7 linked regions of the Homo sapiens genome follow. The protein of the gene in region 3 purifies or fractionates together with the protein of the main gene of each other region. This does not show direct contact. Each region holds a gene or a part of one and is shown on either strand. Other genes may lie near its edges.

Evidence for each region.
Region 1: the proteins of PFAS (region 3) and SLC19A3 fractionate together in Homo sapiens (co-fractionation; one large-scale study listed by BioGRID). This does not show direct contact.
Region 2: the proteins of PFAS (region 3) and G6PD fractionate together in Homo sapiens (co-fractionation; one large-scale study listed by BioGRID). This does not show direct contact.
Region 4: the proteins of PFAS (region 3) and OSBPL11 purify together in Homo sapiens (co-immunoprecipitation; one large-scale study listed by IntAct). This does not show direct contact.
Region 5: the proteins of PFAS (region 3) and RAP1GDS1 fractionate together in Homo sapiens (co-fractionation; one large-scale study listed by BioGRID). This does not show direct contact.
Region 6: the proteins of PFAS (region 3) and RPIA fractionate together in Homo sapiens (co-fractionation; one large-scale study listed by BioGRID). This does not show direct contact.
Region 7: the proteins of PFAS (region 3) and PEX7 purify together in Homo sapiens (co-immunoprecipitation; one large-scale study listed by IntAct). This does not show direct contact.

Annotation. Positions count from the first base shown.
Region 1 is NC_000002.12:227,707,385-227,712,037, forward strand, and holds part of SLC19A3 (thiamine transporter 2), read right to left. Parts: intron 1-4,653. UniProt on the Homo sapiens protein: Mediates high affinity thiamine uptake, probably via a proton anti-port mechanism. Has no folate transport activity. Mediates H(+)-dependent pyridoxine transport.
Region 2 is NC_000023.11:154,536,486-154,541,138, forward strand, and holds part of G6PD (glucose-6-phosphate 1-dehydrogenase), read right to left. Parts: intron 1-4,653. UniProt on the Homo sapiens protein: Catalyzes the rate-limiting step of the oxidative pentose-phosphate pathway, which represents a route for the dissimilation of carbohydrates besides glycolysis.
Region 3 is NC_000017.11:8,265,552-8,269,053, forward strand, and holds part of PFAS (phosphoribosylformylglycinamidine synthase), read left to right. Parts: intron 1-4; coding exon 5-88; intron 89-310; coding exon 311-466; intron 467-682; coding exon 683-802; intron 803-949; coding exon of another isoform or gene 950-972; exon of another isoform or gene 973-1,201; coding exon 1,202-1,347; coding exon of another isoform or gene 1,348-1,359; exon of another isoform or gene 1,360-1,476; coding exon 1,477-1,684; intron 1,685-1,820; coding exon 1,821-1,912; intron 1,913-1,999; coding exon 2,000-2,114; intron 2,115-2,981; coding exon 2,982-3,305; intron 3,306-3,402; coding exon 3,403-3,502. UniProt on the Homo sapiens protein: Phosphoribosylformylglycinamidine synthase involved in the purines biosynthetic pathway. Catalyzes the ATP-dependent conversion of formylglycinamide ribonucleotide (FGAR) and glutamine to yield formylglycinamidine ribonucleotide (FGAM) and glutamate.
Region 4 is NC_000003.12:125,528,924-125,533,576, forward strand, and holds part of OSBPL11 (oxysterol-binding protein-related protein 11), read right to left. Parts: intron 3,092-4,653; coding exon 2,938-3,091; intron 1,658-2,937; coding exon 1,592-1,657; 3' UTR 1-1,591. UniProt on the Homo sapiens protein: Plays a role in regulating ADIPOQ and FABP4 levels in differentiating adipocytes and is also involved in regulation of adipocyte triglyceride storage. Weakly binds 25-hydroxycholesterol. Interacts with OSBPL9 to function as lipid transfer proteins.
Region 5 is NC_000004.12:98,267,163-98,271,815, reverse strand, and holds part of RAP1GDS1 (rap1 GTPase-GDP dissociation stimulator 1), read right to left. Parts: intron 1-4,653. UniProt on the Homo sapiens protein: Acts as a GEF (guanine nucleotide exchange factor) for the Rho family of small GTP-binding proteins (G proteins) that stimulates the dissociation of GDP to enable subsequent binding of GTP.
Region 6 is NC_000002.12:88,743,673-88,747,172, reverse strand, and holds part of RPIA (ribose-5-phosphate isomerase), read right to left. Parts: intron 1-3,500. UniProt on the Homo sapiens protein: Catalyzes the reversible conversion of ribose-5-phosphate to ribulose 5-phosphate and participates in the first step of the non-oxidative branch of the pentose phosphate pathway.
Region 7 is NC_000006.12:136,870,496-136,875,148, forward strand, and holds part of PEX7 (peroxisomal biogenesis factor 7), read left to right. Parts: intron 1-1,702; coding exon 1,703-1,758; intron 1,759-4,653. UniProt on the Homo sapiens protein: Receptor required for the peroxisomal import of proteins containing a C-terminal PTS2-type peroxisomal targeting signal. Specifically binds to cargo proteins containing a PTS2 peroxisomal targeting signal in the cytosol.

The sequences.
Region 1 (4,653 bases), on a different chromosome or scaffold from region 3:
GACTAGCCTGAGCGACACGGTGAAACCCTGTCTCTACAAAAATACAAAGTTAGCCAGGCATGGTGATGCGCACCTGTAATCCCAGCTACCTGGGAGGCTGAGGTGGGAGGATCACTGAAGACCTGAAGGCGGAGGTTGCAATGAGCTGAGATGGTGCCACTGCACTCCAGCCGGGCAACGGAGCAAGACCCTGTTCTCAAAAAATATACAATAAAATAAAATATAATAAAAAAAAACAAATTTAAAAAATAATGGAAATAATTATTTTTCATATTATGAAAAAAGCCACAGCTGTCCCACCAAGGGATGCTTCAGTTCTCTACTGTTTGGCCTCCAGCTTCTCTCAATCTCTATTTTTTTTGAGACAGAGTCTCACTCTATTGCCCAGGCTGGAGTCCAGTGGTGCAATTTCAGCTCACTACAACCTCTGCCTCCCAGGTTCAAGCAATTCTCCTGCTTCAGCCTCCCAAGTAGTTGAGATTACAGGTGCCTGCCACCATGCCTGGCTAGTTTTTTGTATTTTTAGTAGAGACGGGATTTCACCATGTTGGCCAGGCTGGTGTTGAACTCCTGACCTCAGGTGATCCACTTGCCTTGGCCTCCCAAAGTGCCAGGATTACACATGTGAGCCACCGCGCCCAGCCTGAATCTGTATTTGGAGCCCATTGCCATGTATTCCACATAAGGCCACATTGTTTACTGCTGGCTCCCCTTCTTTGGGGTACGTGGGGTGCCACAGCCTTTTGAAAAAAACTCTCTTGCTAGCATACCTAATCCTACTTCATTTTAAAATGCTCTTAGTTTTCTTTTTTTTAATCTCCCACAAAAGTTAACTTGTATTTTGACTATGAATGAATTTGGCAGGAGTGGCTTCTCATGATTTTTGTTTTTATCTGCCTTGCAACCTATTACATGTTTGCAAAATTTCTTTTTATGCAACCTATTACACAGTTGTAGTCTCTTTGTATCAGAGTTCAATTTTTTCTTTCTTCTTTTATTTCAATTATTACCATGTTATTGGCTTTTCCACTTTTAACCATCTCCTTAAATTGTTCTTTCCACCTGGCAGCCGGACACGGTGGCTCATGCCTGTAATCCCAGCATTTTGGGAGGCTGAGGCGGGAGGATTGCTTGAGCCCAGGAGAGCCTGGCAACATAGTGAGACCCTGTCTCTATCAAACAAACAAACAAACAAACAAACAAACAAACCAAAAAAACAACAAAAAAAACTTTCCAACTGGCTGCAGGCTAACCTTCTTTGATAGATAAATGCTTTCACAATAATTATAAGTGTTTAGTTGATTTTTAATACTATCTCTGAAACTGTCAGTGTTCTTATAGTGACTGCAAGATAAGTTCATTTGTCATCCTAATTCTGTAGCATAGAAAAACTAAGGTTTTTGTTTATTTGTTTTTAGTGGGAAACAAAAAAAAATTACTTCATTGCTAGGATCTCATTTGGAGTGAGTTACAAATGAAGATTGGAACTCACATCTCCTGGGTTTGCTGCTGTATTTCCTTCAGTGAGTCTTATCTCAGAGTCACTGTGCGGATTAAGACCTTTCCATAGTTGTGCACACAACAATGTTCACGTATTGTTCATATATGCATTGGGGAATCATATTGGATCTAAGCTAATTTGGACCTTATTTAAATTTCAGACATGGATAGTGTCCTATTTCCTAATCCATAGGTTGTCTGTATCTATCTCTAAGTGCATATACTTAAAAGCCCTATGTCCACAAATATTTCCAAGTATATTTTCCATTTTTGTAGGGTAAACAACTGTTAAAAAGCAAGAACTGCAGAAACTGAGGCCGGGCACTGTGCCTCATGCCTGTAATCCCAGCACTTTGGGAGGCTGAGGCGGGTGGATGACTTGAGGTCAGGAGTTCAAGATCAGCCTGGCCAACATTGGTGAAACCCCGTCTCAAACTAAAAAATGCAAAAATTAGCCAGGCATGGTGGCGGGCACCTGTAATTCCAGCTACTTGGCAGACTGAGGCACGAGAATCACTTGTACCTGGGAAGTGGAGGTTGCAAATGCCAAGATTGAGCAAATGCACTCCAGCCTGGGTGACAGAGCGAGACTCTGTCCCAAAAACAACAACAACAAAAGAACTGCAAAGCTGGCATGCACTGGTGGGTTTCCTGAAGCCAGGGTGATTTTCTAGCTAAGGTAAAGCCTTATTTGGTCAGATTCCTCCACCCATACACACCCACTTGCACACCCAGAGGATGGAATTCTCCCACAGCCAAAGCACTCAGAGCTGTGGGGCTCCCTGAGGTAGGGGACAAGGTGACCTGATGAAAGCAAGTAACTCCCTCAAACCTGATAAGTTTCCCACAACTGACTGCCTGGAGAAGAACAAGATATTGGGTGGGTGGAAAGAAATCACTTTATCAAGTCCTCGTCCATGTTGTACTGACAATACTGCCAGAATTAACCCAGATGCCAGTAATTTGGAAGGAAATTATCTACAATAGTGGTACCCAACCTTCCTGGCACCAGGAACCCGTTTCATGGAAGACAATTTTTCCATGAAAAAATGGGGGAGGAGTTAGGGGGAATGGTTTTGGGATGAAACTGTTCCATCTCAGATCATCAGGCATTAGATTCTCACAAGGAGCTCGTAACCTAGATCCCTTGCATGCACAGTTCACAGTAGGATTTGCACTTCCAGGAGAATCTAATGCCGCCACTGATCTGACGGGAGACGGAGCTCAGGTGGTAATGCTTGCTTGCCCGCCACTCACCTCCTGCTGTAATGGCCCGTTCTTAACAGGCCATAGGACCCCTGATCTAGAATCCCCACTCTCCACCTACTTCCTGCCCACTCCTTTCTACTAATCATTCCAGCCATCTCAGAGAGGGTGTCTAGCCAGGCAGCCATCTGAGAAATGGGCTAGCCTGATTTTCACAATAGGCTAGAACTTTACTGCAGTCAAAACACTTCTTTCAAACAGAAGAGCAATAAATTGGTAATTATATGTTTGCCAGACTCCATCTCTACAAAAATACAAAATAAGGCTGGGTGCGGTGGCTTACACCTGTAATCCCAGCACTTTGGGAGGCCGAGACGGGTGGATCACCTGAAGTTAGGAGTTCGAGACCAGCCTGGCCAACATGGCAAAACTCGGTCTGTACTAAAAATATAAAAATTAGCCAGTTCAAGACCCGCCTGGGCAACATAGAGACCCCATCTCTTTAAATATTAAAAAAAAGAAAAACGAATCTTACAGAGCATGATCTTCAGCTCCTTCCCCCCCAGTTTTTAGACTATCTATGGACCCCACTCCAAGCTATCTTATTAGCATAAACACGTTATCAAAGAGGGTCATTATGAATAAAAAGACACCTGTTACTCAGGAATTCCCAAAAGTTTTAGCTTAAAGACCAAATACATTTTATGTTATATCAGTTACAGTTTCCAAAAAGCCCACCTCCCAGGCTTTCAACACTGCTAGAGTCAAGCCCTTCCCTAGACAGAGCAAACTCAAAGTCTGATTACTAAAAACAAAAATATTTGCTTTTAGCTGACATATCAGAGCAGACAAACTAATTATGCCTTTTAATCTGCTTATTACTAAAATAGAAGAGAATATAACTTTCAGTAAAACATTCAAATAAAGCAAAGGGCTGCAGTCAGCTTAAGTCAGGGCAAGATGGTCCTGAAGGAAGGCAGGGGAAAGGATTCCAGGGTCTTGCTTAACCACCGTCGTTCTGCTGCAGTCAGAATTAGTGGGTGGTGGCCAGGCGCGGTGGCTCCCGCCTTTAATCCCAGCATTTTGGGAGGCTGAGACAGGCAGATCACCTCAGGTCAGGAGTTCGAGACCAGCCTGGCCAAAATGGTGAAACCCCGTCTCTAATACAAATACAAAAGAATTAGCTGGGCATGGTGGTGGGTTCCTATACTCCCAGCTACTTGGGAGGCTGAGGCACAAGAATCTCTTGAACCCAGGAGGTGGAGGCTGCAGTAAGCCAAGATAGTGCCACTGCATTGTGGCCTGGGTGACAGAGCGAGACTCTGTCTCAAAAAAATAAAATAAAATAAAATAAAATAAAATAATAAAATAAAATAAAAATTGGAAGGTGGTTCCACCAACTTCTAGGGAGTTATTGTATTCTGGCTGTAACTTCATCTTACTTGAAATGCATCTTACTGATCACTGCCTCACTCCATACACAAAAACTAATTTGACATAACAAATACTAACACCACAGCATGCCATCCAGAAGGAAACAGATCTTCGTTACCTAGGGACTGGCACATATTTGAAATAATAAAAAGAATCTTAAAAGAAAAAAAAGATAAATTGCATTTCATCAAAAAGCCACATCTGCTTATCAAGAGGTACTGTTAAGAAACTGAATGGAAAGGAGGCTGGGCACCGTGGCTCATGCCTATAGTCCCAGCATTTTGGGAGGCCGAGGTAGGTGGATTACTTGAGGTCAGGAGTTTGAGACCATCCTGGCCAACATGGCGAAACCCCGTCTCTACTAAAAATACAAAAATTACCCAGGCGTGGTGGCACAAGCCTGTAATCCCAGCTACTCGGGAGGCTGAGGTAGAAGAATCGCTTGAACCCAGGAGGTGGAGGTTGTAGTGAGCCGAGATCCCGCTATTGCACTCCAGCCTGGGCGACAGAATG
Region 2 (4,653 bases), on a different chromosome or scaffold from region 3:
TACATTAGCAAAAAAGAGTGGTTCAAAAATAAGGAGCTAAGCATTCCACTTAAGAAGTGAGAAAAAGGGCCAGATGCGGTGGCTCACACCTGTAATCCCAGCACTTTGGGAGGCTGAGGCAGGCAGATCACCTGAAGTCAGGAGTTCAAGACCAGCCAATGTGGCAAAACCCCATCTCTATTAAAAATACAAAAATTAGCCAGGTGTGGTGGCAGGCACCTGTAATCCCAGTTACTCAGGAGGCTGAGGCAGGAGAATCACTTGAATCCGGGAGGCAGAGGTTGCAGTGAGCCGAGATCGTGCCACTGCACTCCAGCCTGGGTGACAAGAGTGAGACTTCATCTCCAAAAAAAAAGTGAGAAAAAGATAGAACTGCAAGCCAAATTACCAGGAAGAAAATAGGAAATAATGACAAGTAAAATTAATAAAATTAAAAGCTAACCCAAAGAAAAGATGAACAAAGCTGGAAATTGGTGTTTGAAAAAGACGAATAGAAACAGACAACCCCCTGGCATGGTTGCTTTTTTAAAAGGGCATAGGCCGGGCACAGTGGCTTACTCCTGTAATCCCAGCACTTTGAGAGGCCGAGGCAGGCGGATCAAGAGGTCAGGAGATCGAGACCATCCTGGCTGACACGGTGAAACCCCGCCTCTACCAAAAATACAAAAAATTAGCCAGGCGTGGTGGCGGGTGTCTGTAGTCCCAGCTACTCGGAAGGCTGAGGTAGGAGAATCACTTGAACCCGGGAGATGGAGGTTGCAGTGAGCCAAGATTGCACCATTGCACCCCAGCCTGGGCGACAAGAGTGAAACTCCGTCTCAAAAAACAAAAAACAAAAAAACAACTAAACAGCTGGACGCGGTGGCTCAAGCCTATAATCCCAGCACTTTGGAAGGCCGAGGCGGATGGATTACCTGAGTTCGGGAGTTCAAGACCAGCCTGACCAACATGGAGAAACCGTTTCTACTAAAAATACAAAATTGGCTGGGCATGGTGGCCCATGCCTGTAATCCCAGCTACTCAGGAGGCTGAGGCAGGAGAATCGCTTGAACCTGGGAGGCGGAGGTTGCAGTGAGCCAAGATCAAGCCACTGCACTCCAGCCTGGGCTACAAAAGCGAAACTCCGTCTCAAACAAACAAAAAACAGAGCAATGGACCTGAGAGGGGACAGTGGCCACAAATCTTCCTACAGAAACAACCCCCTGGCATAGAGAGTGTTGCCAGTGGGTTCTACCAAAATGCAAGCACAAGAGAATTCCAGCCTGAAGCAAACTCTTCCTGCAGAAGGAAGAAAGGGGAACACTTCCCAAGCCACCTTATGGGGCCTACAGAGCCTTGGTACGGAAACCTGATGAGAAAGGCACATGGGAAAACCCATACGCCTCATTCACACACACATGCAGATGCAGAAATCCCACACGAAATATCAGCAGGCCGGGCACAACTCACACACCCCAGCACTTTGGGAGACCAAGGTGGGAGGAAGATTGCTTGAAATCAGGAGGTTTTTTTTTTTTTTTTTTTTTAAAGACATGGTCTCACTCTGTCACCTAGGCTGGAGTGCAGTGGCACGATCTCAGTTCACTGCAACCTCTGCCTCTGGGCTCAAGCAATCCTCCCACCTCAGCCTCTGGAGTAGCTGGGACTACAGGTACATGCCAACACACCCAGCTAATTTTTTGTATTTTTTGTAGAGACAGGGTTTCCCCATGTTGTCCAGGCTGCTCTTGAACTCCTGGGCTCAAGTGATCTGCCCGCCTCAGCCTCCCAAAGTGTTGGGATTACAGGCGTGAGCCACGACGACCCACTGACCCTGTCTCTTTAAAAAAAAAGAAGAAAACATCAGCAAACCAAATCCTGCAATGTTAAAAACGGTAGGTTTTTTATTTACAGAATAAATACATCTGTAAATAAAAAGTTGGTTTGATATTAACAGAAAAAAATCATTGAAATTCACCATATTAAGAGATTAAAAAAAACCTCTAAGAACTCTCTGCCTACTGCTATGTTTTGATTTTTTAAATCTAGCAATCTTGCTCAACCCAACAGATGTAGATCAAGTGTTTCAGAAATCACCTATTCACGCTAAAACTCTTAGCAGAGGGGGAATGCAAGGGAACTTCACTAACTTGATAAAGGGCATCTATAAAACACCATTCTGGCTGGGCGTGGTGGCTCAAGCCTGTAATCCCAGCACTTTGGGAGGCCGAGGCGGGGAATCGCTTGAGGTCAGGAGTTTGAGACCAGCCTGACCAACATGGTGAAACCCCATTTCTACTAAAAATACAAAACTTAGCTGAACATGGTGGTGTATGCCTGTAATCCCAGCTATTCAGGAGACTGAGGCAGGAGAATCGCTTGAACCAGGAGGGAGAGACTGGAGTGAGCCGAGATCACACCACTGTAGCCTGAGCAACAGAGCTAGACGTCGTCTCAAAAAAAAAAACCACCACCAAAAAACAAAGAACAAAAAAACCCCCAAACCATCATCCTTACAAATACTACAAATATCACACTTATAGGAAATGCTGAAATATTAATCATCCCTTTAAGCAATCAGGAACAAGAAAAGTGCAGTAAGGCAAGAAAATGAAAATGGCTGAAGTTGAGCTGTGAGGTGGTGCGGGTGCTCCCTCTGATCAAGTGAAACACACACCTATCCTGTGACCTGGCCGTTCCACCCCAAGAGAAATGAAAGTGCAAGTCCACACAAAGACCTGCACACGAATGGTCACAGCAGCCTTGGTTCATAGCGGCCCCAAACTGGAAACAAGTCAAACACTTGAATTAACATGTGACCCGGCAAACTGTGCATTCATACAACGGATACTACTCAGCAACACTGGGAAATCTCAGCATCAGAGATGCAACCCATTGTGACAGAAATCAGATCAGCGGTTGCCTGGAGCAGGGCAGATTGGCTGGGAATGGGTACCCAGGAACTTTCTGGGGAGATGACGATGGCCTTTATTGTGATGAGGGTGTACAGCCAATTGTACAGTTAAGATTTGCGCACCAACAAAAGACGGCGAGAAAACCAACAATGGAGCGGAGGGTGGGGAGTGGGTCAGAAATGACCCTTTGAGGGCCAGTGACTGTGAGAGCCCCAGGTGAGGGGGCTTCCTGGGTGCAGAGCATATTCTGTTTCTTGATCTAGGAGCAGTTTCTGTGGCTGTGCTGAGTTTGTGAAAAGTCATCAACAAGCTAGACCTGCACCATCTGTGTTCTTCATGACATGTATTTCTTTTTTTTTTTGAGACGGAGTCTCACTCTGTCGGCCAGGCTGGAGTGCAGTGGCGTGATCTTGGCTCACTGAAATCTCCACCTCCTGGGTTCAAGCCATTCTCCTGCCTCAGCCTCCTGAGTAGCTGGGACTCCAGGCACCTGCCACCACGCCCGGCTAATTTTTGTATTTTTACTAGAGATGGGGTTTCGCCATGTTGGCCAGGCTGGCCTCAAACTCCTGACCTTGTGATCCACCTGCCGTGGCCTCCCAAAGTGCTGGCATTACAGGCGTGAGCCACCGTGGCCGGCCCATGACATATATTTCAATAAAACATGGTAAAAACTAATAGTCTGGGCGTGGTGGCTCATGCCTGTAACCCCAGCACTTTGGGAGGCTGAGGAGGGTGGATCACCTGAGGTCAGGAGTTCGAGACCAGCCTGGCAAACATGGTGAAACCCCGTCTCTACTAAAAATACAGGCCAGGCGCGGTGGCTCATGCCTGTAATCCTAGCACTTTGGGAGGTTGAGGTGGGTGGATCACGAGGTCAGGAGATTGAGACCATCCTGGCCAACATGGTGAGACCCCGTTTCTACTAAAATACAAAAAATTAGCTGGATGTGGTGGTGCGCGCCTGTAGTCCCAGCTACTCGGGAGGCTGAGGCAGGGGAATTGCTTGAACCTCGCAGGTGGAGATTGCAGTGAGCCAAGATTGCGCCACTGTACTCCAGCCTGGTGAAAGAGCAAGACTCCATCTCAAAAAAAAGAAAAAACAAAAATTAGCTGGATGTGGTGGCAGGCACCTGGAATCCCAGCTACTCAGGAGGCTAAGGCAGGAGAATCACTTGAATCCAGGAGACGGAGGTTGCAGTGAGCCAAGATTGCGCCACCAAACTCCAGCCTGGGTGACAGCAAGACTCCATGTCACGAAAAAAAAAAAAAAAAAACACATGCTCTTCGAAGCAATCAGGCACTGCAACCATGGATGGGTCCATTTCTACAAACCATTACAGAATGGGGGCCATGCCACCAGGTCAAACGCCCTCACCCAGAGCCAGGCAGTTAGGAAGCCACCACAGGGCTTCCAGGAGGGCAACTGCTATGGTGTGGGTGCCTTGTGTGCTTGCGCTCTTCAGGGGCCCTGCTCCACTTCTGATGCTCCTCAGGTGAGCTCGGTGCCAGGACTACAGCGACACGGACCTCTCACTGCTGCACCCTTCAAAGTCCAGCAGACAACCCCTCGCCCTGGGGTAGGAGCTCCTCTACTCAGCTCCTCACAGCACCTGCCATCAGTGGGGCTGGGGAGGGGAACGTTGCCCATGTCACATCAACTCACGGCTGGCCCCACACAGAAAGGGTCAGCTTACTGGGAACTAACTGGACCCTGAAATAAACGGAAAGAACCACAGCCTGCAAATACCTCTAAGCC
Region 3 (3,502 bases):
ACAGGGTCACTGGTCATCTCAGCCTATGCCGTCTGCCCAGACATCACAGCCACTGTGACCCCAGACCTCAAGCATCCTGAAGGGAGAGGTATGGACATGGCCCCATCCTTTGTGATCTTTGCTTGTGTGATCTTTGTTTGGCTCCTGCTTTGTGAGTGCTGGGCCCCCATCTCAACACTGGGCTGTGGTGTTTTCTGGGACTGATTGTCTAGGTGTCTCACCACATGCTGGGAATAGCAGTGCTGTGAGCCCCTCAGGGATGGGTCCTCCTGAGCTGTTCCCCTCCCCTCACCCCTCCCCGTCTCCCCAGGCCATCTGCTCTATGTGGCTCTGAGCCCTGGGCAGCACCGGCTCGGGGGCACAGCTCTGGCCCAGTGCTTCTCCCAGCTTGGGGAACACCCTCCAGACCTGGACCTTCCTGAGAACTTGGTGCGGGCCTTCAGCATCACTCAGGGGCTGCTGAAAGGTGAGTGAAGACCCCTGGGGAGATAGCGCACAGGGTGCCAGGCGTGCAGCAGGCGTTCACCATCTGAGCAGTGGGGCAAAAGGGACTCCAATGGACGATGTACCCCAGATCCCCTGACATTCTGACACACACTCTTGATGGACTGACTCCGGAAGGTGGGGTGGGGCTGTCAGGTTTGGGTCCCGAGGTTGCTGAGCTTTCTTCTCCTTCCTCCAGACCGCCTCCTCTGCTCAGGCCACGATGTCAGTGACGGAGGCCTCGTCACATGCCTGCTGGAGATGGCCTTTGCTGGAAATTGCGGGCTACAGGTGGATGTGCCTGTCCCCAGGGTTGATGGTAAGGAACCTGGGGTCTAGTCTCAGGCCCGGGCTGCCTTCTCTACCCTGCAGACCCCATTTCCAATATATTAAAGAGTGGAGTGCCCTCCAGTCCCCTTTCCCTGAGTCTTCCCTGACTAGCTTTTCTGTGCTGTCTCTCTGACAGCTGAACTGGATGGAACTGGCTGACACCCACCATGTTCCTGACTGCACCCCTCTGAGACTTCCCATCCCTGAGATGTCCATGATGAAACATCCTCAGTCCTGCCGTCCTAGCCCTCATCCTCCCTGATCCCTACCCTACTCTCTGGCTGCATCCCTCTGACCCTCACCCTGGCCCTTCCTGCATTTCCCTGATCCCGCCCCAACTCCCTTGGCCCTTCTTGCATCCCCCTGACTCCCCACATTGCTCTCCCAGTCCTGTCTGTGCTGTTCGCTGAGGAGCCAGGCCTCGTGCTGGAGGTGCAGGAGCCAGACCTGGCCCAGGTGCTGAAGCGTTACCGGGATGCTGGCCTCCATTGCCTGGAGCTGGGCCACACAGGCGAGGCCGGGCCCCACGCCATGGTGAGGAAGTGAGGGAGAGAGCGGTGTGCAGTGGGCAGTCAGAGTGGGGTGGCCGCGGTCCATCCCTCTCCCACTGTGGAGGGGGCCATCCTTTCTCCTAGCCCGTGGGAGATTTGTTCCTCTTCCTAGGTCCGGGTGTCAGTGAACGGGGCTGTGGTTCTGGAGGAGCCTGTTGGGGAGCTGCGAGCCCTCTGGGAGGAGACGAGTTTCCAGCTGGACCGGCTACAGGCAGAGCCTCGCTGTGTGGCAGAGGAGGAACGGGGCCTGAGGGAGCGGATGGGGCCCAGCTATTGCCTGCCCCCCACCTTTCCCAAAGCCTCCGTGCCCCGTGAGCCTGGTGAGGGAGTGTGTGCAGAGGCTCCGCGTCCTGGGGGCACTGAGCCTGGATGCCTGGGCCTGCCCTCAGAAAGGTGTCTGGGGAGTTGGGGTGGGGAAGTGACTTTCTGGCCCAAAGACACTTATTCTCCCCCAAGGTGGTCCCAGCCCCCGAGTCGCCATCTTGCGAGAGGAGGGCAGTAATGGAGACCGGGAGATGGCCGATGCCTTCCACTTAGCTGGGTTTGAGGTGAGCAGGGTAGGGGGCAGCTGGGGGTGATTGTCCAGCCTCAGCTGCGTGTCCTCCCACCCACACTCCCCCTCCCCACCTTCGCAGGTATGGGACGTGACCATGCAGGACCTCTGCTCTGGGGCAATTGGGCTGGACACTTTCCGTGGCGTGGCCTTCGTGGGCGGCTTCAGCTATGCAGATGTCCTGGGCTCTGCCAAAGGTCAGTGTGCAGGCTTCTGCCCACTCCCTTCCCCCACATTCCTGAAGAGGTGCCTTTAGCCCCATCTTCCTGGGCTGGGGATTGGCCTCTCACTCCACCGAGCTACGAGAGAGTGGGCCCATTCGTTCTGGGCCACATGCCAACAGAAGGCTGGTAGTAAATTTTTAATTTTTTCATTGAAAAAAAGTATATATATACACATATGTAATTAAAATATATATTATTAAATATATATTATTTATATATATTATTTATATATTATTAAAATGTATATTATTTATATATTATTAAAATATATATTATTTATATATATTATTTATATATTATTAAAATATATTATTTATATATATTATTTATATATTATTAAAATATGTATATTTTTAAATATATATATATATATATATGTATTTTTTGAGACGGAGTTTCACCCTTGTTGCCCAGGCTGGAGTGCAATGGCGCAATCTTGGCTCACCGCAACCTCCACCTCCTGGGTTCAAGCGATTTTCCTGCCTCATCCTCCCAAGTAGCTGGGATTACAGGCATGCAAAAATACAAAAATTAGCCAGGCGTGCTGGCGGGCGCCTGTAATCCCAGCTACTTGGGAGGCTGAGGCAGGAGAATCGCTTGAACCCAGGAGGCAGAGGTTGTAGTGAGCCGAGATCATGCCACTGTACTCCAGCCTGGGTGACAGAATGAGATTCCATCTCAAAAAAAAAAAAAAAAGAAAGAAGGAAAGGAAGGAAGGAGGGAGGGAGGGAAAAGGAAGAAAGAAAAAAGAAAAGAAACAGAGCAGTTATGCCCCTTCATTCCCAATTCCCTTTTTTGAGGTCCTCCATGTCTCACCCTGACTTCCCTATTCCCTGCTAGGGTGGGCAGCTGCTGTGACCTTTCATCCCAGGGCTGGGGCTGAGCTGAGGCGCTTCCGGAAGCGGCCAGACACCTTCAGCCTGGGCGTGTGTAATGGCTGTCAACTGCTGGCTCTGCTCGGCTGGGTGGGAGGCGACCCCAATGAGGATGCTGCAGAGATGGGCCCTGACTCCCAGCCAGCCCGGCCAGGCCTTCTGCTACGCCACAACCTGTCTGGGCGCTACGAGTCTCGCTGGGCCAGCGTGCGTGTGGGGCCTGGGCCAGCCCTGATGCTGCGAGGGATGGAGGGCGCCGTGCTGCCCGTGTGGAGTGCGCACGGGGAAGGTCAGGCCCAAGGAAGGCTGGGGGAGGGCCCGAGGGTTGGGGGCAAGGGTGGGCATGAAGGACCTTGGCTCTCACTTCCCTCCTCCTTCCATCCCAGGTTACGTAGCATTTTCTTCTCCGGAACTCCAAGCTCAGATTGAGGCCAGGGGCTTGGCTCCACTGCACTGGGCTGATGATGACGGGAACCCCACAGAGCA
Region 4 (4,653 bases), on a different chromosome or scaffold from region 3:
ATTTTTTTCAGTGCATTTCACAGCAAAAATGAACAAGGGAATCATTAAAATTGTTGTACACAAACCAACTCTTTTTCTTATAATTTACAATTTGTTGAAAAAATTATTGTTTTGCTGTTTTCATCCTACTAACCTCTTTAACAGAACACAATTTATCAGAGCACAAAGCTTAAACTTCTTATGATGATGCAACAGACACAGCCACCTACAATGGCTGATAAACAACAGGTATGTTACACACACTGATTGGAAGACCATATCAGAAAAAACAGAGTAAGGCACCACTCTTGGGAAATTAAGGTAGCTTGCAGTAACAAGTGTTGAGCACCATAATAAGTAGGTGCTCAATAAATACATGAATGAATGATGAAAGCCATAATTAGCTCTATTCTTTTAATTGCCAGCAATTCTTCAACCTCAACAAAATACTTATTTAAAAAAAGATTTGTACCTGAATACAACTTCCTGATCTTTTTTTCCTGATACCTTTTCATTTCGTTGTTTCTTTAGCATTTAAATTTCCTCAAAAAAAAAAAAAATAAATAAAACCATACCTTACATGCGCGTTCAGTTACACATATAAGTTTTGAATTACTGACAAATATGAATAGAATCATTTATTTTAATTTTTAACAGAGGTAAAATAAAGCATACTTATCCAAAGGGATAACACATAATACTGGATATTAACCTAAAGGTGAAAAGAAAGAAGGAAAAAAGTAACAGTTTTATTTTTTAATATTTGCTATTTTCTTTAATGCCTTAGTTCTGGAGAAAGGCTAAAATCTCATCATATTGACATTAACACATTTTTAAAAAGTGTCTCTCAAGTGTAATATTTAATAAAACTAGGTACTGAAAAATGTTCTGAAATTTTTCAAGTCAATGTTGTTTTCAAGTATATTAAAATGCTCAGAAGAAAAAATTCTCCATGGTTATAATTCTGATCAATCTATAAATGTACTTTTTAAAAGAGAGTTCCAACAGAGGTGGATAATAGGTAAGTTCCTCAGACACAGGCATACAGTCTTTTTGAAGAAATAGAATGCCTTGTTACCACAACCTGGTTGATTTTTTTTTTTAAACACTGATTTCAGGCACAATGGCTGAATCCACTTCTGGGTCATCTTTCTCCTCCTCTTGGTTGGTTTACAAGAGTAGTGAATACTTCAGTTATGGACAGAAAGAAAGACACAAACTCTGAAACGGAGACTTCACTTTTCACTACAAAGAAATCAAAGTCACTGAGTTCTCATTGTTGTGTGTATCTGCTGCCCCTGTGCAAAAATAGGGGATTCAAACTTAACTTTAGGAGCAAGAACTGGATAAAAGATTCATCTACTGATTCAGGTAACAAGTTTTAAGATGGTATTGCTCACATCACATGAACAGGTTGGTAAAAGGTCCACTGTGTTTCTTTACCACTTTGGTCTTGCTGCAGTATTATGGTGCCCTAGTAGGTACATTCAGGTTTAGCTAGTTTCAGTCTGCGCAATCAGGAAGCAGGTCACTCAGTGCAATGACTCCATTCTGGGAGGATTTAGGGTAAACAGAGAAGAACCTCATTTGGTCGAGTTTTAGATAGTATGTGTCACTCTGCTGGTTGTGTTGTTGGAATTATTTTCCAAAGTGGTTTATGATAAACCCAGCCATCTCCCTGAAACAAATAAAAAGATAAAGAATCATCCCTCTAATATTATCAAAATCAGTAACCAAAACTAGAAGCAACACCTTCACTGAAATGGAATTCTATTTTCACATTCAAAAACAAGTTTTTGTGAAGGAATAAAGTCTTTGTGATTAAGACATCAAACGATGCCTGTGGTTTAGCTAGGATTTAGGTGAGAAGACATGGTATGGGAGGATCTAGTTTGTGACCCATGAACATTTAATTTTGCAAGAACCATTTGTAGCAATTTTGCCAATTTCGCCAAGATGCTACAGATTGAGCCTCACTCACAGAGTTATGGGCAGCAGGTGGAGTACAGAGAAATGATCGGGAAGGTACTAACTGTTCTCCCTGTCTCCACTGGCACCCCAGAACTCATTTTTTTTCTTTCCTTTTTTTTTTCCCCCAAGACGGAGTCTTGCTCTGTCAGCCAGGCTGGAGTGCAGTGGCACAATCTTGGCTCACTGCAACCTCCGCCTCCCTGGTTTAAGCAATTCTCCTGTCTCAGCCTCCCAAGTAGCTGGGATTACAGGCACGTGCCATACCCGGCTAATTTTTGTATTTTTAGTAGAGATGGGGGTTTCACCATGTTGGCCAGGCTGGTCTGAAACTCCTGACCTCATGATCCGCCCGCCTCGGCCTCCCAAAGTGCTGGGATTACAGACGTGAGCCACCGCGCCAGGCCCCCCAGCTCATTTTTCTTTTTTTTTTTTTTGGAGACAGAGTTTCACTCTTGTTGCCCAGGCTGGAGTGCAATGGCGCAATCTTGGCTCACTGCAACCTCCGCCTCCTGGGTTCAAGCAATTCTCCTGTCTCAGCCTCCCGAGTAGCTGGGATTACAGGCATGTACCACCACACCTGGCTAATGTTGTATTTTTAGTAGAGACTGGGTTTCTCCATGTTGGTCAGGCTGGTCTCGAACTCCTGACCTCAGGTGATCCGCCTGCCTCGGCCTCGCAAAGTACTGGGATTACAGGCATGAGCCACCGAGCCCGGCCACCCCCTAGCTCATTTTTAATGATATATAGATGTTCTCACTTAGAAACTCTTCTTTCTTAGAATCTGTTCTTGGTATATCTGCCTTTTTTTTGAGACAGAGTCTTGCTATAGGTTACCCAGGCTGGTCTCAAAAACAGTTGGTATTTATATACAGCCATACTACTTTTAAAAATAAAGATGTATAAGTGATAGCAATTCAACAAAGCCTAGTAAGCTAAAGTTCTCAGCCAAGTAGATACATTTTTATCTTGAACACATGTACAGCATACCTCTTTAATAAAATATTTGGTTTTCCAAGGTGTGCCTGTTTCAGTACGATGCCTTTCTTCAGTCCTCTGACGTTCTTCCAGGGTATGCTTATGCTCTGTGGCCTTATCAATTTCAGATTCTCTCAGCGAGTCTGTCACATTTTTCCACAATCGCCTGAAATCCAAAAACCACACATTTTACAAGCATTCTTTAAAAGAGATAATTAAATAGAATCAATACCCTCAAAATTACAATAATTTTATAAAATAACGTTTCCTAAATCACATCTACAATGTCATGCTTATGAATTCCAAGAATAACGATACTGTGCTGCTGATGGTTATGTCCAGGATGCTGCTCCTTCTGCTTCTTTTTAAATTAAAAATAATTTGTATTTTTCCAGGTTATAAAAGCAGGATTTTTTGTTTTTAGAAAACTTAGAAATTAACGAGTAAAAAGAGAAGTAAATTTTCAAAGTTGAAATGTAAGCAAGACTAATTGTGCTTCTGGACATGATGAAATAATGGGGAACACATTTATTTTCCTGCCTTCATCAACCAGGAAACCAGGCAACATATAATACAATAGTGGTTTTCAGATACTGAGCAAAAGGCAGTGCAGGGCAGTGATCCTTGAGAAAGGAAACAAATGAGGGGAGTCCTATGAGTGCTCTAACTCGCTGTCCAGAGTGTTTCTAGGCCACGCACAGGGAGAGGGAAGCTTAACAAATCTCAAGCAAAAAAAAAAAAAAACAAAAAAAAACTGCCACAACACTTCTTTAGGGAAAGAACTGTTTGTTGAACAAATGGTGCTGGGACAACTGGATATACATGTGAAAAAAATGTAGTAAGTTAAACATAAAACTACCATAAACCCAGCAATTCCACTCCTGGGTATTTACCCAAGAAAAATGAAAATAAATGTCCATACAAAGACTTGTAGGAGAATGTTCACAGCAGTATTATGGATAGGCAAAATGTGATATATCCATACAGTGCAATACTATTCAGCAATAAAAAGCAATGAACCACTGATACATGCAATTAATACTTCATGGATGAACCTCAAAAACGTTATACTAAGGAAATAAGCCAGGCATAAGAGATCACACATTGTATGATTTATATGAAATATCCAGAAAAGGCAAATTTATAGAGACAGAAAGTTAGTGGTTCTCTGGGCTGGGGGTAATGGGGATTAACTGTAAATGAACAAGAGAGATCTTACGGTAGGATGAAAATATTCTAAAACTTATTTATGGTAATGACTGTACTACTCGAGAAAGTTACTAAACATCTGTTTTTTCTTTCTTTCTTCCTTTCTTTCCTCCCCCCTTCCTTCTCTTCCTCCCCTTCCCTCCCTCCCTTCTCTCTCCCTCCCTCCCTCTTTCTCTTCTGTTCTCGTCTCTTCTCTTTTTTCTTTTTTTGAGACAGGGTCTCACTGTCACCATCTCAGCTCACTGCAACCTCTGCCTCCCGGACTCAAGCAATTCTCCTGCCTCACTTTCTTGAGTAGCTGGGACTACAGGCGTGCACCACCATGCCCGGCTAATTTTTGTATTTTGAGTACAGACAGGGTTTCATCATGTTGGCCAGGCTGGTCTCGAACTCCTGACCTCAAATGACCCGCCCACCTCGGCCTCCCAAAGTGCTGGATAGTATGCCAAAGGTCTTATAATTTAAAGAATTAAGGCTACATATGTATCTTAATGGCTCCAAAAGGTTTCCTAACACATT
Region 5 (4,653 bases), on a different chromosome or scaffold from region 3:
TAGAATTGTTGAAAGGATTAAAATTCAGTTTTAAAAATATGTAAAGTGTAGCATAACTCACATCAATCATTCTTAATAAATGGTAATTATGAACTCAATGGTATACAGCCCCCTATACTACCCCATGAGATATAATTATTAAATTTTCAGGATTTTTATGAGGCAGTTATTAAAACATAATTATATATACATAAATGAGTTATACTAAAACAGAAGAATTAACACTCAAAACCATCACTACTTACTTTACATTTTACTATTATATGTGCTAATGAGATTATGTCTGTATGGTGGATATGGTATATAATGATGTGCTACCTCTTATCTCTTCTCAACTCTGCATTCAGTGACACTATTTTAGCGGCTTGAAATGAGCCATGGGGGGAGTATTTACACCACAGGAAATTGACAGCCATCACAAATCAGGGCTATTTTGGAGAAAGGCGTTTAGTTAAACATTTACCAGCACCCCTCTAATTATCATTATTAAAAATTATAAAATGAGTTTTATTTTGAACTCAATGAGTTTAATTAGTAGAGATGTCTACTAATCTGCTAAATACAAAGATGTAGCCCAGATATTAATAAATATATTTCAGTACCAATAAGTACCTAAAGTCATTTTGTGAACAAAAAGGACTTTGGAATTAACAAGTACTGTTGACCCTTGAACAATGCAGGCACTAGGGGTACCAATCCCCCTCTCACTCAGTCAAAAATCCACACATAACTTTTAACTCCCTAAAACCTTAATAGCCTAATGCTGACCAGAAGCCTTACCAATAACATAAACAGTCAATTAACACATATTATGTATGTTATATGCATCATATACCATATGCATCAAATACCATATTGTTACAATAAGGTAAGCTAGAGAAAAGAAAATGGAAGGAAGAGAAAATGTATTTACTGTTCATTACATGGGAAGTGGGTCATCATAAAGGTCTTCATCCTTATTATAGTCACTCTTGAGTAGGCTGAGAAGAGGAGGGGTTCATCTAGCTGTCTCAGGTGTGGCAGAGGTGGAGGAGGTAAAAGGGGAGGCAGGAGAGGCAACTCACTTGGTATAGCTTTTATTGAAAAAAAAAAATCCACATGGAAGTGGAACTGCGCTGTTCAAATCCATGTTATTCAACGGTCAACTGTACAGCCAATCATAGCTAAGAGCTCAATTTAACCACTTCCATTTATCACTAACCTAGTCCTTGGTTTTAACTCCTGAAATGCTTCTAGTTACAAAAGCTATATAAATAGAAGCACTGAGAGAATTATTTCACCTGCAATTTGAATCCAGCATCCATATCTTAGCCAGCTTGAGAAATGTTTTTTTAGGTCATTTATTCAGACAAAGCTAAAGTTGGTTCAAACCCTTAAGTTGCTACCTCAAGTATACATTACCATTTGAACACTAAAGAAAAACAAGTTATATAGAGGTTATATTTAAGATACCAATGATATGGAGTATATTTCAAACTTCAGTTTCAAGGAATCACAGGCTTTTATAACTGAAATAGTCTTTATAACTATATGGTTTGAATGTTTTTGTCCCCTCCAAAACTCATGTTGAAACTTAAACACAACAGTACTGGAAGGTAATGGGAGGTGTTTAGGTTATGATGGCTCTGCCCTCATAAATAGATTAATGGCATTATAAAAAGAGCTTACCAGAGTGGATTTTCTCTTTTGCTTTTCTGTTGTGTGAGGGCACAAGGTTTCTCCTCTTTGGAGGACACAGCAACTAGGCCTCATCTTGAAACCAAAGACCAAACCTGCAGGCACTTTGATCTTGTAGTTACCAGACTCCAGAACTCTGATAGAATAAATTTCTGTTCTTTATATATTACCCAGTCTGCAGTATTCTGTCATAGCAGCACAAAATGGACTGAGACAATAACCTATTCTAATATATTCATTTATTATTTACATCTAGGTAAATACAGATTGAGTATCCCTTATGCAAAATGCTTTAGACCAGAAGTGTTTCAGATTTTGAAATTATTCAGATTTTGGAATACATGCATGATACTAACTGGTTTAACATCCCTAATCCAAAAATCTGAAACCAAAAATCCAAATGCTGCAATGTGCATTTCCTTTGAGTGTCATGTCAGCATTCAAAAAGTTTCAGATTTTGAAGCATTTCAGATTTTGAATTAGGGATCCTCAACCTGTATTTTTATTTTATTTTAGCTACTGAGTTGTATGAGTTCCTGATTATTTTTACGTGTTAACCCCTAATCGGATATACGGCTTGCAAATATTTCCCCTCATTATGTAAGCTGCCTTTTCATTTTGTTGTTTCCTTTGCTACAGAGAAACTTATTAATTTGATGAAGTCCCATTTGTTTATTTTTGCTTTTGTTGCCTGTGCTTTTGGTGCCATAAACAAAAAATCATTGCCAACACCAATCTTATGGAGCTTCTCTCCAGTATTTTCTTGCGCGCATCTTATGCTTTTCAAATTCAAATCTTTTGTTTAAATCTCTGACCCATTTTGAGCTGATTTTTGTATATGGGATGAATAAGGATCCAATGTCATTCTTCAGTATGTGGGTATCTAGTTTTAACAACAGTGTTTATTGAAGAGATTGTCCTGTCCCCATTGTGTTTCCTTGGCTTTTTTTTTTTTTTTTTTTTTTGAAGATCAATTGACTGTAAATTCTTGGGTTTATTTCTGGCCTCTCTATTCTGTTCCATTGATCTATGTGTCTGCTTTTATGCCAGTACCATACTGTTTTGATCACTACAGCTTTGTAACATGACTTGAAGCATGTAGTGTGATGCCCCTGGCCTTGTTCTTCTTGCTCAAGATTATTCTGGCTATTCAGATCTTTTGTGGTTCCATACAAATTTTAGAATTGTTTTGCTATTTCTGTGAAAAGTTTCACTGGAATTTTGATAGGGATTACATTGAATCTGTAGATCACTTTCAGTACTATGAACATTGTAACAATATTAATTCTTCCAATTTATGAATATGGGATATCTGTTAATTTTTCAAATTCTTTCATCAATGTCTTACAGTTTTCAGCATAGAGATCTTTCACCTTCTTGGTTAAATCTATTCCTAAATATTTTATATTTTTGCAGCTACTGTAAATAGGATTGTTTTCTTGATTACATCCTCAGAAAGTTTGCTGTTAGTGTATAGAAATGCTTCTGATTTTTCTATGCTGATTTTGTATCCTGAAACTTTACTGAATTCATTTATTAGGACTAATAGTTTTTGTCTTTTTTTTCAAGGAGTCTTTAAGGCTTTCTATGTATAAGACCATGCTATCTTTAAACAGATCATTTTACTCTCCAATTTGAATGCTTTTTAATTTCTTTTTCTTGTCTATTTGCTCTGCTAGGACTTCTAGTACTATCTTAAATAGCAGTGGCAAGAGTGGGCATCCTTGTTTTTTTTCTCAATCTGAGATAAACTTTTCAGATTTTCACCATTAAGTATGATGTTAGCTATGGGCTTGTCATATAGGACCTTTACTATGTTTAGGCATATTCATTCTACACCAAATTTGTTGAGAGTTTTAAAAATGAAAGTATGTTGAATTTTGTCAAATGCTTTTTCTGCATCAACTGAGATGATCGTATGATTTTTGTTCTTCATTCTGTTAACGTGGTGTATCACATTTATTGATTTGTGTATGTTCAACCATTCTTGCATCCCAGGGATAAATCCCACTTGATCATGACGTATGATCCTCTTAATGTGATGAGACTGCAAATCAAACCACAATGAGACACCATTTCACACCAGTCAGAATGGCTATTATTAAAAAGTAAAAACAAACAAACAAAAAACAGATGCTGTAAGGCTGTGGAGAAAAGAGAATGTTTTTACACTGTTAGTGGAAATATAAATTAGTTCAGACACTGTGGAACGCAATTTGGAGACTTCTCGACGAACTTAAAACAGAACTACCATTTGACCCAGCCATCCCATTACTGGGTATATTTCCAGAGAAAAATAAATCATGCTACCAAAAAGGCACATGCTCTTGGATCTTCATCGCAGCACTATTCACAATAACAAAGACATGAAAACAACCCAGGTGCCTATCAATAGTGGATTGGATAAAGAAAATGTGACACATATATACCATGGAATACTATGCACCCACAAAAAAGAATGAAATCATGTCCTTTGCAGCAACATGGATGGAGCTGGAGGCCACTATCCTAAGCAAATTAACATAGAAACAAGAAATCCAAATACCACATGTTCTCATTTATAAGCGGAAGCTAAGCACTGGGTGTACATATGGACATAAAGATGGGAACAACAGATACTGGGGACTACTAGAGGGGGACAAATGGAGGGAGGCAAGGGCTGAAAAACTACCCACTGGGTACCATGCACACTACCTGGGTGATGGGATTATTCATACTCCAAACCCCTGGGTGATGGGATTATTCATACTCCAAAGTGTCACATAACATGCCCATGTAAAAAACATGCACATGTACCCTCTGAACCTAAACTAAAAGTTGAAATTATTTTAAAAAAGGAACTAATACCAATCCTCCTCAAACTCTTTCCAAACAATGAAGGGAAATACTTCCAAACTCATTTAATGAGGCCAGCATTACCCTGATACCAAAGCCAGACAATGATACTACAAGAAAAGAAACTACAAGCTAATATCC
Region 6 (3,500 bases), on a different chromosome or scaffold from region 3:
ATAACTCCATTGACCTGAGAACCACTCCCCAACCCCACACAGTGGCCACAGCAAGCCCTGCCCAAGGAAAGTCTGACTCAGACCCACCTAACTCTGCCCTAACCTGATGGTTTTTCTCTACCTGCCCTGGTAGCCAAAGACAAAAGACATAAACTCTTGGGAGCTCTATGGCCCTGCCCATTACCTAAGAAACCAAAATACTTATCCTGGCCTACATAGACAAGCTTGTATCCCCCCTATACTACTACAGCTGATGCTTTCTTGAAAGCACCACCTCCTCGCTGAAGGCCAACCAACTCAAGCCACTACAGAAACTCGTAACAGAACAACCCTGCTCCAAAAAGGGAAAAACAACAGCTAATTCCACCGCCTGCAACATCCTGGCTAACCAGAGATCCTGAGTCTGTCCACATGGCAACTTCACTGCTAGCATAAACCAGCATTCAAGAAAACCAGTGCACTAAACAAAAATACAACCAGGGACTCCCACAGAGTCCACTTCACTCTCCTGCCACCTCCACCGAAGCAGGTGCTGGTATCCACAGCTCGGGGACCTAAAGACAGATCACATCACAGGACTTTCTGCAGACATTCCCCAATACCAGCCTGGAGCCCAGTAGCCGCACTGGGTGGCTAACCCCAGAAGGGCATAACCACTGCAGTCCAGCTCTCAAGAATCCTCATCCTTAGGGGAAGGCGAAGAACACCCCATCAAGGGATCACCCCATTGGACAAAAGAATCTGAACAGCAGCCCTTGGGTTCCAGATCTTTCCAATGAAACAGTCTACTCAAATGAGAAGGAACTAGAAAACAAATTCTGGTAATACGACAAAACGAGGTTCTACAGCACCTCCCAAAGATCACACTAGCTCTCCAGTAACGGAGCCAAACCAAGAAGAAATCTCTGAATTGCCAGATAAAGAATTCAGAAGGTTGATTATTAAGCTACTCAAGGAGGTACCAGAGAAAGGTGAAAACCAACTTAAAGAAAATTTAAAAGGACTCCAGAGAAACAGATATCATAAAGAAAAGATAATCAAACTTCTGGAAATGAAAGACACATTTTAGAAATGCAAAATACACTGGGAAATTTCAACAACAGATTAGAACGAGTAGAAAAAAAGAACTTCAGAGCTCGAAGACAAGGCTTTCAAATTAACCTAATCCAAGAAAGACAAAGAAAAAAAGAATCAAAAAAATGAACAAAGCCTCCAAGAAATTTGGGATTATGTTAAACAATCAAACATAAGAATAACTGATGTTCCTGAGGAAGGAGAGGAGAGAAATCAAAAAGTTTGGAAAGCTTACTTGAGGGAATAATTGAGGAAAACTTTCCTGGTATTGCTGGAAATCTAGACATCCAAATAAAAATGCTTGAAGAACACTCAGGAAATTCATTGCAAAAAGATCACCACCTAGGCATATAGTCATCAGGTCATCTAAAGTAAGACAAAGGAAAGAATCTTGAAAGCTGCCAGGCAAAAGCATTAGGTAACCTATAAAAGAAAGCCTATCAAATTAACAGCAGATTTCTCAGCAGAAGCCCTACAAGCCAGAAGGGATTGGGGTCTTATCTTTAGCCTCCTTAAACAAATTAATTATCAGCCAAGAATTTTGTATCCAGCAAAACTAAGCTTCATAAATAAGGAAGAGATACAGTCATTTTCAGACAAACAAATGCTGAGAGAATTCGCCACTACCAAGCCAGTCCTACAAGAAATGCTAAAATGAGTTCTAAATCTTGATACAAAACTCACAATACACCTAAATAGAACCTCCTTAAAGCATAAATTTCACAGGACCTATGAAACAATATCACAGTGCAAAAAAACAAGGTATCCAGGAGACAACTACCATGATGAATAAAATAATACCTCATATCTCAATATTAACGCTGAATGTAAACTGCCTAAATGCTCTACTTAAAAGGTACACAATGGGCCAGGCTTGGTGGGCGGCCAAGGCAGGCAGATCACCTGAGGTCAGGAGTTTGAGACCAGCCTGGCCAATATGGTGAAACCCCGTCTCTACTAAAACCACAAAAAAATTAGCCAGTCATGGTGGCGGGCACCTGTAATCCCAGCTACTCAGGAGGGTGAGGCAGGAGAATTGCCTGAACCTGAGAGGTGAAGGTTGCAGTGAGCCAAGAACATGCCATTGCACTCCAGCCTGGGCAACAAGAGTGAAACTCTGTCTCAAAAAAATAAAAAGATACACAATGGCAGAATGCATAAAAATCCACCAACCATGTATCTGTTGTCTTCAAGAGACTCACCTAACACATAAGGATTCACATAAACTTACTGTAAAGGGGTGGGAAAAGATACTCCACACAAACAGAAACCAAAAGCAAGCAGGAGTAGCTATTCTTCTATGAGACAAAATAGACTTTAAAGCAACAAGTTAGAAAAGACAAAGAGGAACATTATATAATGATACAAGGATTAGTCCAACAGGAAAATATCACAATTCTAAATATATATGCACCTAATACTAAAGCTCGCAAATTTATAAAACTGTTACTACTAGACCTAAGAAATGAGATAGATGGCAATACAATAATAGTGGGAGACTTAAGTACTCCACTGACAGCACTAGACAGGTCATCAAGACAGAAAGTCAACAAAGAAACAATGAAATTAAACTATACTCTGGAGCAAATGGACTTAACAGATATCTATAGAACTTTCCGCCTAAGAAGTACAGAATATATATTCTTTTCTTCAGCCTGGAACATTCTCCAACATGACAGGCTACAAAACAAGTCTCAATAAATTTTAAAAAATCTAAATTATATCAAGTACTCTCACAGATCACAGTGGAATAAAATTGGAAATCAACTCCAAAAGGAACCCTCAAAACTATACAAATACATGGAAATTAAATAATCTGCTCCTGAATGATCTCTGGGTCAACAATGAAATCAAGATGGAAATTTAAAAATTATTTGAACTGAATAATAATAGTGATACAACCTATCAAAACCTCTGGGATACAGCAAAAGCAGTGCTAAGAGGAAAGCTCATAGCCTTAAATGCCTAAACCAAAAACTCTGAAAGAGTACAGATAATCTGAGGTTACACTTCAAGGAACTAGAGAAACAAGAACAAACCACACTCAAACCCAACAGAAGAAAAGAAATAACTAAGATAAGAGCAGAACTAAATGAAATTGAAACAAAAAATACAAAAAAGATAAATGAAACAAAAACCTGGTTCTTTGAAAAGATAAAATCGATAGACCATTAGTGAGATTAACCAAGAAAAGAAGAGAGAAGATCCAAATAAGCTCAATTACAAATGAAATGGGAGATACTGCAACCAATACCACAGAAATACAAAAGATCATTCAAGGCTACTATGAACACCTGTATGTGCATGAACTAGAAAATCTGGAAATATACAAGCCTCTTAGATTAAAGCAGGAAGAAACAGAAACTATGAACAAATCAATAACAAGCAGCGACACTGAAACAGTAATTAAAAAAACTGCCAACAAA
Region 7 (4,653 bases), on a different chromosome or scaffold from region 3:
TCTCAGTAAATTTATCTGGGTTATAAGATGACTTAGGTTGGTTTCCTGGCTTTTATATTTAGGCAGGTTCTGCTAAATGACTGTGGAAAACATCTTATTAAGTGACATCTCCCAATTTCATCCTTTTGTTTTTTTACGTTAAGGATAAAAAAGTACCTTATTGATTATTTTAATAAGGTAATTATGTTATTCCTACTATTTAAAAAATTCTAAATTTTTTTTTCTTTTTTTTTGAGATGGAGTCTTGCCCTGTCACCCAGACACGATCTCAGCTCACTGCAACCTCTGCCTTCTGGGTTCAAGCTGTTCTCCTGCCTCAGCCTACTGAGTAGCTGGGACTACAGGTGTGCACCACCATGCCCGGCTAATTTTTTTGTATTTTTAGTGGAGACAGGGTTTCACAGTGTTGGCCAGGCTGGTCTTGAACTCCTGACCTCAAGTGATCTGCCTGCCTTAGCCTTCCACAGTGCTGGGATTACAGGCTGAGTCACTGTGCCTGGCCAAAAATTCTAAATTTTTAGTTAAGTTAATATTTTAAGTTTCTCTGGCTGCAATGCAACATAGGAGACACAGTGCTCTGTTTTATTTTTTAATAAATTTGTTTAATTGGACAAGTTTTAGCAGTTGAAAAATATGCTCTATGTATATTTTAGAGTGATTATGAGAATGAAATAAGGTAATGTAGTGAAAGTACTTTGCAAACTAAGTGCTGGTCAAATGTAGTTATATATGTGTATTTAACTATTAAAGTGCGATAAGACAAACACTGAAGAAATGTAATTGCAAAGGTCAACTTATTAAGTACATTATTACTCATCTAGAAGACGTTACTTGTCTTTAAACTTGCTTTTTACCCTTGATATAATTTTCCATTAGCTGTAATATACAAATAACGTAAAAATAACTTAAGGGTGTTTTTATTTAACATTTAAATGTTTATTTTGATAACGTGATTATAGCAATCATATATTTGTAAAATTGGTAAATTATATAATTATATATTTGTACTCTTATATACTTAAATCCCTTATATTTGTAAGAATCATTTTTGTTTATTACTTTGTTTGCTTTTGCTTTTTTTGAGCCAGAGTCTCTCTCTGTCGCCGGGGCTGGAGTGCAGTGGCATGATCTCGGCTCACTGCAACCTCCACCTTCTGGGTTAAAGCAATTCACCTGCTTCAGCTTCCCCAGAAGCTGAGATTATAGGCATATGTGCCACCATGCCCATCTAACTTTTGTATTTTTAGTACAGGCGGGGTTTCACCATGTTGGCCAGGCTGGTCTCGAGCTCCTGACCTGAGGTGATCTGCCCTCCTGAGCCTCCCAAGGTGCTGGGATTACAGGTGTGAGCTGCTGCATCTGGCCTGTAAGAATCATTTTTGGATAGCCAATATGAAATTGTATTTAATTTTTCCAGAATAGCAACATTTTGGGAATATTTTATTCTAAATAAGTTCTAAAAAGCTTGAGGGATAATTTTCTTTGGAGAATGTAAAAATATTTTTCCTGAAGATGGATACTTATAAGGCCAGAAGATTTTTGCCTCAAATTATAGCATATATGCTTTGAAAAAGCATAATTTTAAGTGACAGCTCTGACTCAACTTAAATTTATTATAATGTTTATGGAATGATCATAGAAAGCAGTGTTATAATCACAGCTGACTTCAAAAAGGGTTTTTTTTTTCTTTTTTTTTTTGTAGTTTTCACCATTTCATGCTTCTGTGCTGGCCTCTTGCTCGTATGATTTTACTGTAAGGTACAGTGGTTTTTAATACATTTCATTGTGAAATACCAGGTAACATTTGCATCTTTGCAACTTTTATAAGAGATAATATGATTACTCTTACTAACATGAAAATAATCTGAGATGGGTACATTTAAATATTTACTAGGATTAATATTATATTTTTCCTGTTTTCGTGATCCAGTCACATATATGAGTAAATTTTTTCTCTTCAAATATTAGCCTGGCTATTCTGTTTAAAAGCCATCTTTTCTAATAGATGTTCCTATGGTAACACTTTCCTACACTATAGATGGCATAGCCAATATATTCTAAATTTAGATATAGAAATTTGGAAATTGCATTTCTTCAGGTCTAATTATATGAGTCGTAAGGCTAAGATTGCTTAGATGAAAAAACAATGAACATGAGTGTATGATTTTTTGTGAATGTAGATATATGAACATGTATGTGTATATATGTGCATGGATATCTAGATAAGAGTGTGTGTGGGTGTGGGTCTCTATTTATACTTCCAGTTACAGTTCCATACCACAGAGGATTTATTTTCCCTTTCCAAATTTGTAACTCTTGACTTCCATTTTATTCACAATATATTTTCTTATGTGTTAAACCCTGTAATGCTTAGAAAGTAGTTCAGAATTGCAAAGCCATACCTTTGAAAAAAACAATCTTACTAATTAGAGCTCAGCACTTGCTTAGAGTTTTTTTTGTCTTTAGTTTGAATACTATATTCAGAAGTTACTTAGGTTAATTCTCCTCTTCTCTGTTAGAGTGTGGTTATGTTATTCACTTGAAACATGGTTTGATTCCTTTGTTTCTGTTTGTATTCAATTTTAGGGTTTTCCTCCCATCCTTGTTGATTTTGTCTAGGCAAAACATTGACATGGTTTCAAAAGTCAAGATGTACATAAAGATATATTCAGAAAGGTTTCCAGGATTTTCACTAAAATATATCCTGGAAATCATTCTGTATCAAAGAGATCATTCTCATTCTGCATAATACACCATTGTGTGGATGTGCTATAGTTTATTTGGCTACCCTCCTATCTATGGACATTTAGCTTGTTTTCAATGTTTTGTAAATAAACAGTGCCACAGTGAATGATAGCTTTGTGTTACTAGAGAATTAATGTCTGGTATTCCTAGAAGTGGGATTGCTGAGTTAAAAGGTAAACATATGTAGTTTTGTTAGATATTACCAAATTCCCATCCATAAGGAATATGCCAATTTTGATACTCAGTAGCAATGTTTGAGAGTACCTGTTTCTCTGCCTTCTAAAGATCATTGATTCATTAAGGTTTTCCAGATGTATGATCTTATCACCTGCAAATAAAGGTGGTTCTACACCTTCATTTCCAATTCTGATGCCTCTAATTGATTTTTCTTAAAATTCCCTCCACAAATACCACTAATACAGTGCTAAATAGTTTATAGAGAATGTCTGATTCCTGATATGAGTACAAACGCCTTTAGTGTTTCTCTATTAAAAATAAGATTCTGACTTTAATGCAAATTATATATGTTTACTTGTTTGTCATACTAAGAAAGTATGCATGAATTCCTATTTTCTTGAGTTTTTTTAATTAGGAATGGGTCTTAAGTTTTGTTGAAGGCTTTTTTTCCCAGCATTTATGGAGATAATCATGATTTTTCTTCTTAGAGATATGGCTATGATGTATTATATTAATGGATTGAACCAACCTTGCATTCCTGGAGTAAGTCTCTCACGTTCTTTGTGTATCATTTTCTCACCATGGTGTTGAATTGTGTTTGCTAATATTTTATTTAAAGCTTTTGCGTCAATATTCAAAGGTGATATTAGTTGCAGTTTTCTTTCTTTTCTCGTTTTGTTTAATGTGTCTGTGTTTTACTTGCTTCATAAAAAGAATTAAGAAATTTTCCTTTGTTTCCAAAGCTCTGGAACAACTTGTACAGCATTGAGGCTATTTGGTCTTTGAATCCTTTGTAGGATTGCTCTGCAAAACTAGTGGAGCATGGTGCTTTTTGTGGAGTACTTTCTTGATAACTTCATTTCTTTCATGGAAGTGAGTCTGTTTAAACTTTGTATCTCTAACGGGATCAAGTTTGGAAATTGTCCCTTGCTTTTAGGTTTTCAAATTTATTCGTAGAGGTGTCTGTAAAGTGGGTGGACACAGTGGCTCATGCCTGTATTCCCAGCACTTTGGGAGGCCAAGGTGGGCAGATCACCTGAGGTTAAGGGTTCAAGACCAGCCTGGCCAACATGGTGAAACCCTGTCTCTACTAAAAATAGAAAAATTAGCCACGCATGATGGCAGGTGCCTGTAATCCCAGCTACTTGGGAGGCTGAGGTGGAATTGCTTGAACCCAGAAGGCAGAGATTGCAGTGAGCTAAAATCATACCACTGCACTCCAGCCTGGGTGACAGAGTGAGACTTTGCCTCAAAAAAAAAAAAAAAAAAAAGTCTATAAAGGAATGTTGTAGGATTTCTTCTCTTTCATTGGTTGTTTTACTCTTGTTATTTCTGATTTTGTATCTTTAATAAGTTCTTTGAATATCTAGTGGTATGTTTATTTTGTTATTTTTCTTCAGCAGGCAGAATTTTAATTTATCAATTAGAACTACTTTTTTCAGCTGGGTGCAGTAGCTCATGCGTGTAATCCCAGCACTTTGGGAGGCTGAGGCGGGTGGATCACCTGAGGTCAGGAGTTCAAGACCAGCCTGACCAACATGGTGAAACCCCGTCTCTACTAAAAATACAAAATTAGCTGGGCGTGGTGGCACATGCCTGTAATCCCTGCTACTGGGGAGGCTGAGGCAGGAGAATTGCTTGAACCCAGGTGGCAGAAGTTGCAGTGAGCCGAGATCGTGCCATTGCACTCCAGCCTGGGCAACAAGAGCAAAACTCTGTCTCAAAAAAGAA